2 separate regions of the Homo sapiens genome follow, and region 1 is linked to region 2. Evidence: fine-mapped QTL for protein levels in blood plasma. A gene starts in region 2. The other region holds a variant in brackets. All regions are shown on one strand. Distances are between the middles of the regions. Region 1 holds the start of LOC105372878 (a long non-coding RNA gene). Region 2 holds the start of IL19 (interleukin 19).

What was found. PIP is the chance, under the fine-mapping model, that this variant and not a neighbour inherited with it causes the effect. Protein levels are from antibody-based Olink assays in UK Biobank. Linkage for the fine-mapping came from a reference panel and not from the study's own genotypes, which makes the PIPs less certain.
Region 1: its variant is fine-mapped to the plasma level of the IL19 protein (UK Biobank, PIP above 0.99). The variant lies in the coding sequence of IL19. If it changes the protein, the assay may bind it differently, which can mimic a change of level.

Annotation. Positions count from the first base shown.
Region 1 is chr1:206,838,965-206,847,465 of GRCh38, forward strand. IL19 (interleukin 19) reads left to right here. Exons shown (of 7, transcript NM_153758.5): 5 at 886-1,038; 6 at 2,040-2,114; 7 at 3,563-4,017. The coding sequence ends at 3,658. It overlaps LOC105372878 (a long non-coding RNA gene), which reads right to left and starts at 3,857. Exons shown (of 3, transcript XR_922482.3): 1 at 3,545-3,857; 2 at 2,459-2,754; 3 at 2,076-2,254. The variant T/C (reference allele first, on the strand shown) is at 3,648.
Region 2 is chr1:206,768,387-206,771,227 of GRCh38, forward strand. It overlaps IL19 (interleukin 19), which reads left to right and starts at 2,387. Exons shown (of 7, transcript NM_153758.5): 1 at 2,387-2,692. It overlaps IL10 (interleukin 10), which reads right to left. Exons shown (of 5, transcript NM_000572.3): 3 at 2,521-2,673; 4 at 1,443-1,508; 5 at 1-342. The coding sequence ends at 250. RefSeq lists enhancers at 878-987, 2,548-2,737.

The DNA of each region.
Region 1 (8,501 bases), 73 kb after region 2:
GGAAAAGCTGACACTGGGGCCAAGGAGGCTTTGCTTCTTGAATGAAGATGGGTGTGCTGTCCCACCGTTAACCACTCCCTGCTTAGACTGAACAGTTAATCTTCTGCAGAGTAACTGGCTCTCAGGGCAGATGGCGGGCAAACTTCTAGAAGGAAACTGTCTAGCCAACTTCACTGGGCTGTGCCTGGGAATTTAGAGACTATTTCTTTGGGACATCTGCACTCTGCAGGCTGCAGACCTACCCAAATATGCCCATTTCTGCAGCTGTCGGTCTCTCTTGCAAATCTCAGCCTCATTCCAATGACCTTTCTGGTTTTAAAAGGACAGACTACAGGAGAGCTGAGCAGTGTGGTCCAGAGTAAGGTGGCCAGAATGAATGCAATGTGATTACAGTTGGAGGAATGCATACCTAGCAGGATGACTGGCATGCAACAGCCCTTGCATGTTGGCAGATGGGAGACATAACAGAGAGGCAACTTCAGCCCCTGTAGTGTAGGGAAGTTCTTTTCAAGAAAGCTGCTCAGCCATCAGTCCTTTTAAAAAGGAGGCAACTGGTTCCTGGAAAGATTTCAGTGGAAGTTAGTGATGACACGCTAGGGATACTGCAGAGAGAATTAGCCTATGATGGATTCTGGGCCCCATCCTTAGTAAATGTATTTCTCGGCCATACAGAAAAAGGGGAGAACTGGAATCTCTTCTCACTATTTTTGTCATAAGTAGCTTTGATGGGAATAAGAGAGGATGAACACTCTGAGACCATTACGAATTTTTCCAAAATGACTTTTAGTTCTCTCATGTGTCGCTGCCCCTACTCAAATGGACTGCCCTGGTCTCCAACATAATGAGAGAAGAGGCCTCTAGTGTTTCCCTAATTTGTGTTTGTAGCCCTTAGATGTGTGCTGCGTGACCAAGAACCTCCTGGCGTTCTACGTGGACAGGGTGTTCAAGGATCATCAGGAGCCAAACCCCAAAATCTTGAGAAAAATCAGCAGCATTGCCAACTCTTTCCTCTACATGCAGAAAACTCTGCGGCAATGTGTGAGTCACTGGGTCAGAATTCCAGCATCTGCTCCCTGTCTGCCCAAGGAGAGGCCAGGAAGTGCTGGCCCCCATCGGCCTCCTGATATGGTGCTTGGAGTCAAAGGAAATTCTCTGCGCACGTCCACAGGGAGAACTGTGGAGAACCTCTCCCAGTGGCCACTGCTTCCCCAGGGCTCCCTGCCTGCTGACAACTCCTCAGATGGTCTCCTCCTAGATAACCCTCCTGGGGTGACCAACTTATGTCAACATATTCCTTAGTAAGAGGCATGGCAAGGACTCCAGTTCTACTGTAAGCATACCCCTGGTTTCTTTATTTCTGGCCCTTTGGTGTCTTTACATCAATAAACCTCTGGGTAGTTCCTTGGTATGGCCTATCCCTAAAGGTTACTTAGAAATTCATTGCGATCTATTTAAATCCAACATCAGAAACAAAACCAACACAAACCAACAAAAACTTAGACCAGGAGAGAACCTGGGCTCTAGCCCCATTCCTGCTAATGATTTCCTGTGAGACTTTGTGGCAAGTGACTTCACCTCTCTGTGCCTCGGATTCTAAAATTGTTAGAAGAGTTGATGGCCCCTGTCCTACTTGCATTAATATGATAATGGACTCAAATAAATTCACCTAACCAGTTGTTTAATTAACAATTCGTTAAAATTAATTATCTAATTAATAATTAACATTTAACAAATGTTTGTTGAGTGCCTACCCTGTGGGATGCAGCACTCAGAGTGGTGATAAGACAGATATGGTGCCTGCTTTCCTAGTGCTGACAGTCTGATGTGTTCTAAATGCAGAAAAAACAAAAGGCGTGGGCAGATGCAGGTGACTCTACAGACAAGCTCTATTCTTCCGTGGCTGCTCCCACCTGAGTTTACTCATCTGACTCTCACTGTGGGAGGGAGGAGAAATGTCACTTCTCATGTGGGGAGGCAGGAGTAAGAGAGGGCCAGAGTGGAAATGTCCTCTGATAGGAGCTTCCTCCACTTTATCACAGCAGGAACAGAGGCAGTGTCACTGCAGGCAGGAAGCCACCAATGCCACCAGAGTCATCCATGACAACTATGATCAGGTAAGATCTGGGAAGAGGTTGGGGAAGATGGAAGATGAGAGGTAGATCAGGAGGGTGCCAGGCCTTCAGCCTCCTCTCCACTTAAATTCATGCATTCACTCTATAAGCAGCCATTGTGGGCAGGCCTCAATTCTCTGTGTCTGTAAAGAGAGTTTTGATTTTACCTCATTTGCTAATCTCCTGGGCTCCCCATCTCCATCATTCCTCCACCATTTTCTCATACCCTCATATATCAAGCCTGACCTGTATGATTTGGGGAAAGCACCCACTGCTTAAGATGGGATGACACAGAGGGAGCAAAGATCCCCCATGAAATGTGAGCTGTTACGCCTGAAACGTGTTACCTGCACGCCGTCACTGCGATCACTACCTGCCCCCCCATATTGTGTGTAGTGATGAAGACATGGTACTTCTCATGTTGATGTTGGTGTAAAATGCACATCTCACGTGGAGGTAGAGGAAGAAGCAGTGTTTCTCATGAGCATCAGTTCAAGATCTTGTTAAAATGCAGATTCTGGCTCAGCAGGGCTGGGATGAGCCTGAGTTTCTGCATTTAGATCACACTGTCAAATGATACCAATGCTTTGAAGAGCAAGAGTTAGGGAGTCTGTTATGGGCTCTGCTTCTTTGTGGAGAGACTCTGTAAGATAATGTTATAGAAATAGCTAAGAGTTACATGGTTCTTACTATAAGCCAGGTATTGCTCTAGGCACACAACAAGTATTAACACACATTCGTCCTTCCCAACAATGCTATGAGTCATTATCTGCATTGGATACATTAAGAAACTGAGGCTCGAGCAGGTAAAGTAACTAAACTAAGTTCACACTGCAACTGCACGGCAGAGGTAGGATTCAATTCCACGCTGGCTGGCTCTACAGGACGCGCTAAAAGCATGAACTCAGTCTGCTGAGGAAGGAGGTGGAATAAGGCAGGAGACTTGGGTTTCATTTCCAGCTCTGTTACTAACTGGCTGTGTGACATTGGGTAGGACACTTGCTCTAGGGGCTTTAGTGCTCTAATATGTCAAATGAGGACAACATGCTCTCCCTACCCACTGTCCAGCACCTCAGGGACAAAGATGTTCTGGGATAACAGAAGCACTAAAGCAAGCTGGTGTGGAGAAGAAAATCAGCGGAACTGGCCAGTAAGGCAGATTTTTTTTTCCTGTGAAAAACAGAGGAAAAAAAAACCTGAGGGAAAAGAATGAAGAATTTTAAAGTTCTGTTTATAAGGAGCTGACATAATTTAACTACTTGTTTGTGGGGAAAAAAATTGGTTGCCTGCGAGGAAAATAATATTGAGTCTGTATGTTATGCAAATATATTTCGTGACAAAAAAACAAAAACAGAAACAAAACCTTGTGGGAACCAGCATATGAAGAAAGTGACTTGAAAACCATTACACAGTCTAGAAAGGTGGGTTCTTACATTGATCTCTGATTTCAGCTGGAGGTCCACGCTGCTGCCATTAAATCCCTGGGAGAGCTCGACGTCTTTCTAGCCTGGATTAATAAGAATCATGAAGTAATGT[T/C]CTCAGCTTGATGACAAGGAACCTGTATAGTGATCCAGGGATGAACACCCCCTGTGCGGTTTACTGTGGGAGACAGCCCACCTTGAAGGGGAAGGAGATGGGGAAGGCCCCTTGCAGCTGAAAGTCCCACTGGCTGGCCTCAGGCTGTCTTATTCCGCTTGAAAATAGCCAAAAAGTCTACTGTGGTATTTGTAATAAACTCTATCTGCTGAAAGGGCCTGCAGGCCATCCTGGGAGTAAAGGGCTGCCTTCCCATCTAATTTATTGTAAAGTCATATAGTCCATGTCTGTGATGTGAGCCAAGTGATATCCTGTAGTACACATTGTACTGAGTGGTTTTTCTGAATAAATTCCATATTTTACCTATGAATGGAAGGATCTTTTCATTCAGGGAGAGTCAGTCAAGACTGAGGACAGGGTGTTTCTGACAGAGGGATGGTTGTCATGGTGACAAAGCTGAACAAGCACAGACACAAGTAAGTAGAGAGGCCACTGGGTAGAGAGGCTGAAAAGGGTACCAACATCTAGATGGACACTGCATAGATGATTCAGAGCACAAATGTGTATCTTTCAGATTTCATATCACATGCTTTAATGGAAAGAACAAGACCTCTGAAGTCCAATTGATCTGGTTCCAATCCTATGTGACTTTGAACAAAGCACTTAACGTTTCTAAGACTCAGTGTCCTCTGTTGTAAAGTGGAGATATTAACACCAGTCCTGTAGTGTTGCTGTGAGCATCGAGTAAGGAAAAGGTCTCTCATGACCTCAGCAGGGTGGGAGACAGCACGGTGCAATATAAAGACTGCCGACTCAGGGGCCACCTTCTGGTTCTAAGGCATCTCCTGCCATGAATTTCCCAGGGCAGGTCAGTACATTTCTTTGGTCCTTAGTTGTTAGTATTGTGGATACTGACCCTTCTGTACTACCTGCTCCATATAATTATTTATTTATTTATGGAGACAGGGTCTCACTTTGTCACCCAGGCTGGAGCACAGTGGCATGGTCATAGCTCACTGTAGTCTCAAACTCCTAGCTCAATCAATCCTCCCTCCTCGGCCTCCCAAAGTTCTGGCATTACAGACTTAAGCCACCACACCTGCCTCTATAATCATTTAAAAGCTGGAGTCATTATGAGGGCTTTGACAACCCTGATATCTGCACACACACCCCTCCTGGCTGTTTTCCCTAACTGTGTCCCTGCTCCTTCCCCAGGCTCACTGTGACCCAGCCATAGTTGTTTGCTCTGTGTTTCGCAAACACACCAGGCATGTTCTCACCATACAGTGTATGCACTTTGTGTACATGCACACTCATAAACTGAGGTAGGGTTAAAAAATAAAACAAACCCTCCACACATTATGCGTTAATGGGATTCATACGCTATTAGGGAGCAGGGTTGTTTGCTGAGGACCTAACTTTTCCAAAGTGACCTTGGATGGGCACCCACCCTGAGCAGGCTGGGTGATGGCAGTTATAGCATTTCTGATCTTTTATCACTGCCCTGGGATGTGCTTCCCCTGGACACCTGCATGGCTTGCACCTCCACGTCTTTCAGACCTTCACTCCAAAGGTCTCGTATTGGAGGATAACCCCCCATTTCCACCTTCAGCACACTTTGTACCCCTTTCCTGTTTATCTAGCATCCTATTTTGTTTATTAGCTGCTCCTCCACATGAATGTAAGCTTCATGAGTGTAGGGATGGTTTAGTTTGTTCACTGCCTGGCACTTAGTAGGTGTTAAATTCACAATTCACCTAGATTATTTATTCAAGAAATGTGAATAACCACAAACATGTATATAGTGCTTCCTATATGCCAGCCGATAGTCTAAGAAATACACTTCTTGTAATATAATATAATATAAATACATATATATATATTTCATTTAATTCTCACAACAATCCTATTGTAGGTTTTTAGAATGAAATAAAATGAAAAAGGCCACCTCATTGATTGTTAGCAGTATGGATAATTAAACCCTAAGAAGGAAACTAGGCACAGAGAGCTTAAGTAACTTACCCTAGGCCACATATCGCATAAGTAGAAGAGCTGAGCTTCCAATCCAGGCAGCCACATTCCAGAATGAACTATAATGTCCACAATAATGTACATATGTTGAGTTCATCATGTGCCAGGCACCAAGGTGAGAACTTAACTTATGGCTCCTCCTTTACTCCTCACGATAGTTCTCTAAGGTACGATTATAATTATAATGTGAATAACTCTGCACTTTGGGAGGCTGAGGTGGGTGGATCACTAGGTCAGGAGTTCGAGACCAGCCAGGTCAACACGGTGAAACTCCGTCTCTACTAAAAATAGAAAAAATAGCCAGGCATGGTGGCGGGCACCTATAATCCCAGCTACTGGGGAGGCTGAGGCAAGAGAATTGCTTGAACTCGGGTGGCAGAGGTTGCAGTGAGCTGAGATTGCTTCATTGCACTCCAGCCTGGGTGACAGAGCTAGACTCTGTCTCAAAAAAAAAAAAAAATTGTCTGGAGATTAGTGAGGTTTGACAATACACCTAAGGCCATGTTTCTAGTTGTACAACAGAGATTCAAACTCCGGGTGTCCTACTCCAAAGCCTGAGCCCTCCATCATGATGGTTTGTGGCTTGTGCATCTTGCTCATGTGACAAGAAGCCCACAAGAGAAGGTGATTTACTGGCATAATGACCTGCACCTGTAGGAAATATTGTTATTATCAATGGTAGTAGAAGTACTAGTAGGAGAGGAGGAGGAGCAGGAGGAAGATAATTGAAGAAGAGCTCATCCTTTCTGAAATGGCTAGTATCTTGCTTAAAACTCTCCTAGGTCTCTTGTTTGCTTCCTTTCCCCGTCTACTTTTCCTTTCTCTTTTTTCAGACTTGAAGAATATGTCCCAATGCTTTTTGAGTTCGCAGTAGTTCTGGCATAGTGGGGTGTGTGTGTGTGTGTGTGCGTGTGTGTTTGTGTGTGTTTCTTCACAGAGCTGGTGCTTAAGAAATACATGCTAAGAAGCCAAGAGTAACATTATCTCCCAAACCATGCTGAGTCCTCTGTCAGCCCCTAGTAGGTACCCTTGAAAAATCTGGAGCTCACCTCCACTGCTAAGGTGCAAGGGGAGGGAATCCATGTCACGCACCAGGGCCATGACAGGTACTTTACACATAGGACCTCATTCAAGCCTCAGAGGAAGCCAAGGGGGTTGGAGTTCTTATCCTCACACGGTCAGTGAAGGCATCTCAGGCTCAGGGAGGTGGGGGAGCTTGCCCAAGTCCACAAAGCTTTGGGATGGCAGATCCAGAAAATGAATCCAGGCCCCATCTTCCTGGCTTTGGTGCCCTCTCCTTTTGCTGCTAGGGGAGTTCCTTTTATCCTGGACAAGACTGTATAACCTAGGGCCCAGGTTACTATGTTGAATGCCAGCAATGAAGATAACTAAACCCAGATGCACCAAAAGGGGCTTGGACTAACTAGCCACAAGCTTCTGAAGTTACACATGAAATTATGGACATACACAGAGCAAAGGAGCAGAGGCCAACTTCTGAGTATGTCACGCAATGTTCCCGGCCCAGCTGAGGCCTGGGCTCCTCCTGGGGATGCTCTATCCTCCTTCCATCTTCCAGAGCAAATTGTTAATAGCCACACATGTTCATACTGCTGAAACTTCATACTGCTGAAAAAGGCACTGAAGAGGTAGGAAAAACAGTCTTGAATCGCTGATGCCACCCTGTCCCCAATCCCCCATCAGTGGCAGTGTGGTGCAGAGAGCAGTTTTGTGTTCTGGGGAGAGGGAGAGCGCAGCAATTGTGAGGCATTGAAATCAGTACTGTCCTTGTTACAGGAGAAAGCAAAACTGGAACACATTCACCTGATGGCCACCCATGGAGGGAGATTTAAACCAGCCCTACCCAGAGGGGAGTCACTGACCCCAACAGTCAGAACTTGAGTTTCTGCAAGCCTTACCACTGTGGGCTAAAGTGCTCTGGGGTTCCAAATAAACTTGAAATTCAGTCTAGGCCAGAAGGACTGCAACTCCTAGGCAAGTACTAGTGTTGAACTGGGCCCAGAGCCAGCAGACTAGGGTGTGAATGCACACAATATACTGAGACATCAACCAAGGCAGCTAAAGTGGTACCAGCATTACCCCTCCTCTAACCCCAGGCTGCACAGCTCATAGTTCAAAATAATGAGACTCCTTCCTTCCACTTCAGGAGTGGAGACAAAAGAGTAGGGAGGACTTTGTCTTGTATCTTGGATACCAGCTCAACCACAGAAGGATAGGGCACTGGTCAGTCATGAGGCCCCCTTTCCAGGCCCTAGCTCCCACTTGACATTTCTAGGCACGCCCTGGGCCAGAAGGGAACCAGTTGCCTAGAAGGGAAGCACCCAGTTTTGGCAGGATACATCACTGGCTAACTGAAGAGCCCTTGGGCCCTGAATAACCAGCAATGATATCCAGGTACTATGTCGACGGCCTTGGGTGAGACTCTGAGACTTGCTGGCTTCACATGAGACTCAGCACATTCCTAACTATGGTAGCTATGGGGTGAGACTTCTTCTGCTTGGGAAAAGTGGAGGGAAACGTAAAGGGGACTTTGTTTTGCACCTTAGGTACCAGCTTGGACACAATGGGGTACAGAACCAACTGGGCTCCTGGGGTCCCTGATTCTAGGACTTGGCTCTTGGATGGCATTTCTGAACCTGCCCTGGGGAACAGTGGAGCCCACAGCCATGAAGGGTGAGTCCCAGGCCTAGAAGCATTCACCACAAGCTGACTGAAGAGCCCTTGGGAACACTGGCAGTAGTGTGGCAGTACTCTCTGTGGGCCTGAAGTGGCGGTAGCCATCCGATGAGGCTCTCCTGCCTTTGG
Region 2 (2,841 bases):
CTTAAAAACAGGTGAAAATAATAAATATTGAAAAAAATTATAATATTGGGCTTCTTTCTAAATCGTTCACAGAGAAGCTCAGTAAATAAATAGAAATGGGGGTTGAGGTATCAGAGGTAATAAATATTCTATAAGAGAGGTACAATAAGGTTTCTCAAGGGGCTGGGTCAGCTATCCCAGAGCCCCAGATCCGATTTTGGAGACCTCTAATTTATGTCCTAGAGTCTATAGAGTCGCCACCCTGATGTCTCAGTTTCGTATCTTCATTGTCATGTAGGCTTCTATGTAGTTGATGAAGATGTCAAACTCACTCATGGCTTTGTAGATGCCTTTCTCTTGGAGCTGTGCAGAGAGATAAGAAACATACAGTTAAAATCCTTTCTGGGGACTAAATAGGCTCCCCTCCCTCATGCTCATGGATGGGCATGACCTTGAGTGCAGAGGTTGCTTGTTCTCCCTCACGCTGGGAAGTAAACCAGAGGATAGGCCTAGCTGCCTTGGGAAAGGCTGTGCATTGACCTTCATCTCCTCCAGGCCTCCCCCTAGCAAGGGGAGCATTCATTTTGCAAAGCACTGTCTTCAAAATGATGCCTTTTCAACAATTTTAAAGGTCACGTATTCACATGATGATTATGCAGAGTTTGATGAAAAGACATTAGAGGAAGCGCTTCGAAAGCAAGACGGTGAGAGGAGAGGAGGGAGCCTTTTAAATGTCTGTGTTCTCCCACCAACACACTGAGCAGGCCCTGCCCTGCCGCCCTGACCTACTATGAGAAATTCACACCCCCTGATGTTGGCACTCTGTGCAGTGTCTGTCCCCAGCCCACGAGGAGGACATAGGCCGCACGGTTTCTGGGAAATCAGACTGAAAAAGTTCACGCACAGTTGGAAGTGTGAAACCCCATTTCGTTTGGGAACTGACATTCTCAGGCACCTCCGCAGGTGCGAAGGGCAGATGGAAAGCGGGCTTGAACCAACTCCAGGTTAAGTGAGAATCCAGCTTCCTGCTCATTCTGAGTTCTGGGGAGTCTGGGCTGAACCCCCAGGTGTATTTGTATGTGCACATTTATGTGCCAGCTTCCTGCACGTGTGGGTTCAGCCTAGATTCCCAACAAGCTACTTTCTGTACTTTCTGTTTCCTTTGTCACTCTCCCCAGCATGCAGCTCACTGTGTTCACAGGCTGGCCGGCCAGCCTAACCCGCAAGCCTGCAAAGGCAGCGAGCAGTCATTTAGAAACCCCCAAAGACACTTAACAGAAAACAAATACAATCAAGGCAGCAGCTCCTCACTGGCTGAGCAGGTCATACCATCTGTCAGGTTCCCACACTCTCTCCAATGAAGAATGGGGCCTATTGAGTCCCCACCACCTTCCATGCTTTGGGGTTGGGGAGTGGGCATGGGTTGTGCTCTGCAGACCCTCTCTGCCACCATCCAAGCTCACCTTATTAAAGGCATTCTTCACCTGCTCCACGGCCTTGCTCTTGTTTTCACAGGGAAGAAATCGATGCTGTGGAAGAAAAGAGAAAGTGTTGGTGATCCTGGCTTCCAGCTCCATGTCCATCACACTTAGGGGACAAGCTGGTGGCATCATGAGGAGGCCAGATTTATCCAAATGCCTTGCCTCACAGCTCCCAGAGAGAACTGAGCCCTGCTTCCATGGCCCTGGGAGTTAAATGTATTTCTCCAGGACTCACTCCAAGATGTTTGCAAGGCTTGGATGACAACCCAGGTCTTGGGATTCCTTCCTCCCCCAGAACTCTACAGTATCTCCTGCAGTGCTGAGCGAGGCATTCTTCAGCCTGTCCTTTTCTGCCTCTCTCTCCTGTTCCTCCCCGTCAGTCACAGCCACCGAGGAACACTTCTAAGCATCTGAGGAGGGAAGCTACTGGGACCAAACCCTTCACATAGCCTTGTCCTACAAATAGACACCAACTGATTTTCCAATATTGGTGACAGAACAGGGGAAACCATTAGTAGTGAGGGCATCATTTCAGTTGGAGAAATAAATTACCTGGAGGAATTACTCATAGACACTAGCCTGGGGATGAATAGCCCCCTTGTCCCTTCTAAAATGCCAGGGGAAATCCTGTCAGTCAATTGGGCCCTTCTTAGAGCTTTGCTTTCAAAACATTGAGATTAAAAGAGGTGAATGATGTTTCCTCTGCTTGGGAACCTTAGCTCCCCGCCCAGGGTCTAGTTACAAAGAGGCAGTGGAGGCCTGACTGAAGCTCTGGGCTCCTTTTATGAAGAGAGAGGGGAGTAGTTAATAACCCACAAATGACTCACAAATAACAGGAAAGCTGTTTGCAAATTTCACATGTAAATGCCTAGCAGCCACCCCCAACGCCTGCTCAAAGAGAAATGAGCAAGAGATCTGACTCCAGGAGTCTTTCCTCATTTACAGCTAGCTCTGCCAGTCTGTGTCTTTGCTGTGTCTGTGGATGTGAGTGTCCCTGCTGGTCTGTAGGAGATGGTATTTTGGGGGCAGCTGCAAGGGAAAAAACTGATCTGCTACTTACACAGCGCCGTAGCCTCAGCCTGAGGGTCTTCAGGTTCTCCCCCAGGGAGTTCACATGCGCCTTGATGTCTGGGTCTTGGTTCTCAGCTTGGGGCATCACCTCCTCCAGGTAAAACTGGATCATCTCAGACAAGGCTTGGCAACCCAGGTAACCCTAAGGGCAGGAGCCAAAGGTGAGTGAGAGATTGGCGGAGGTGGCTGGGAGGAGGGGCTGCTGCAACTAGCTTAAGAGGACAGCTTGGTTCTAGCGATCCTCCTTCACCAGAAGCCTCCCCGAAGGGACTGAGCCCTTTGTAAACCCTCTGGCTGCTGGATGTGCTGA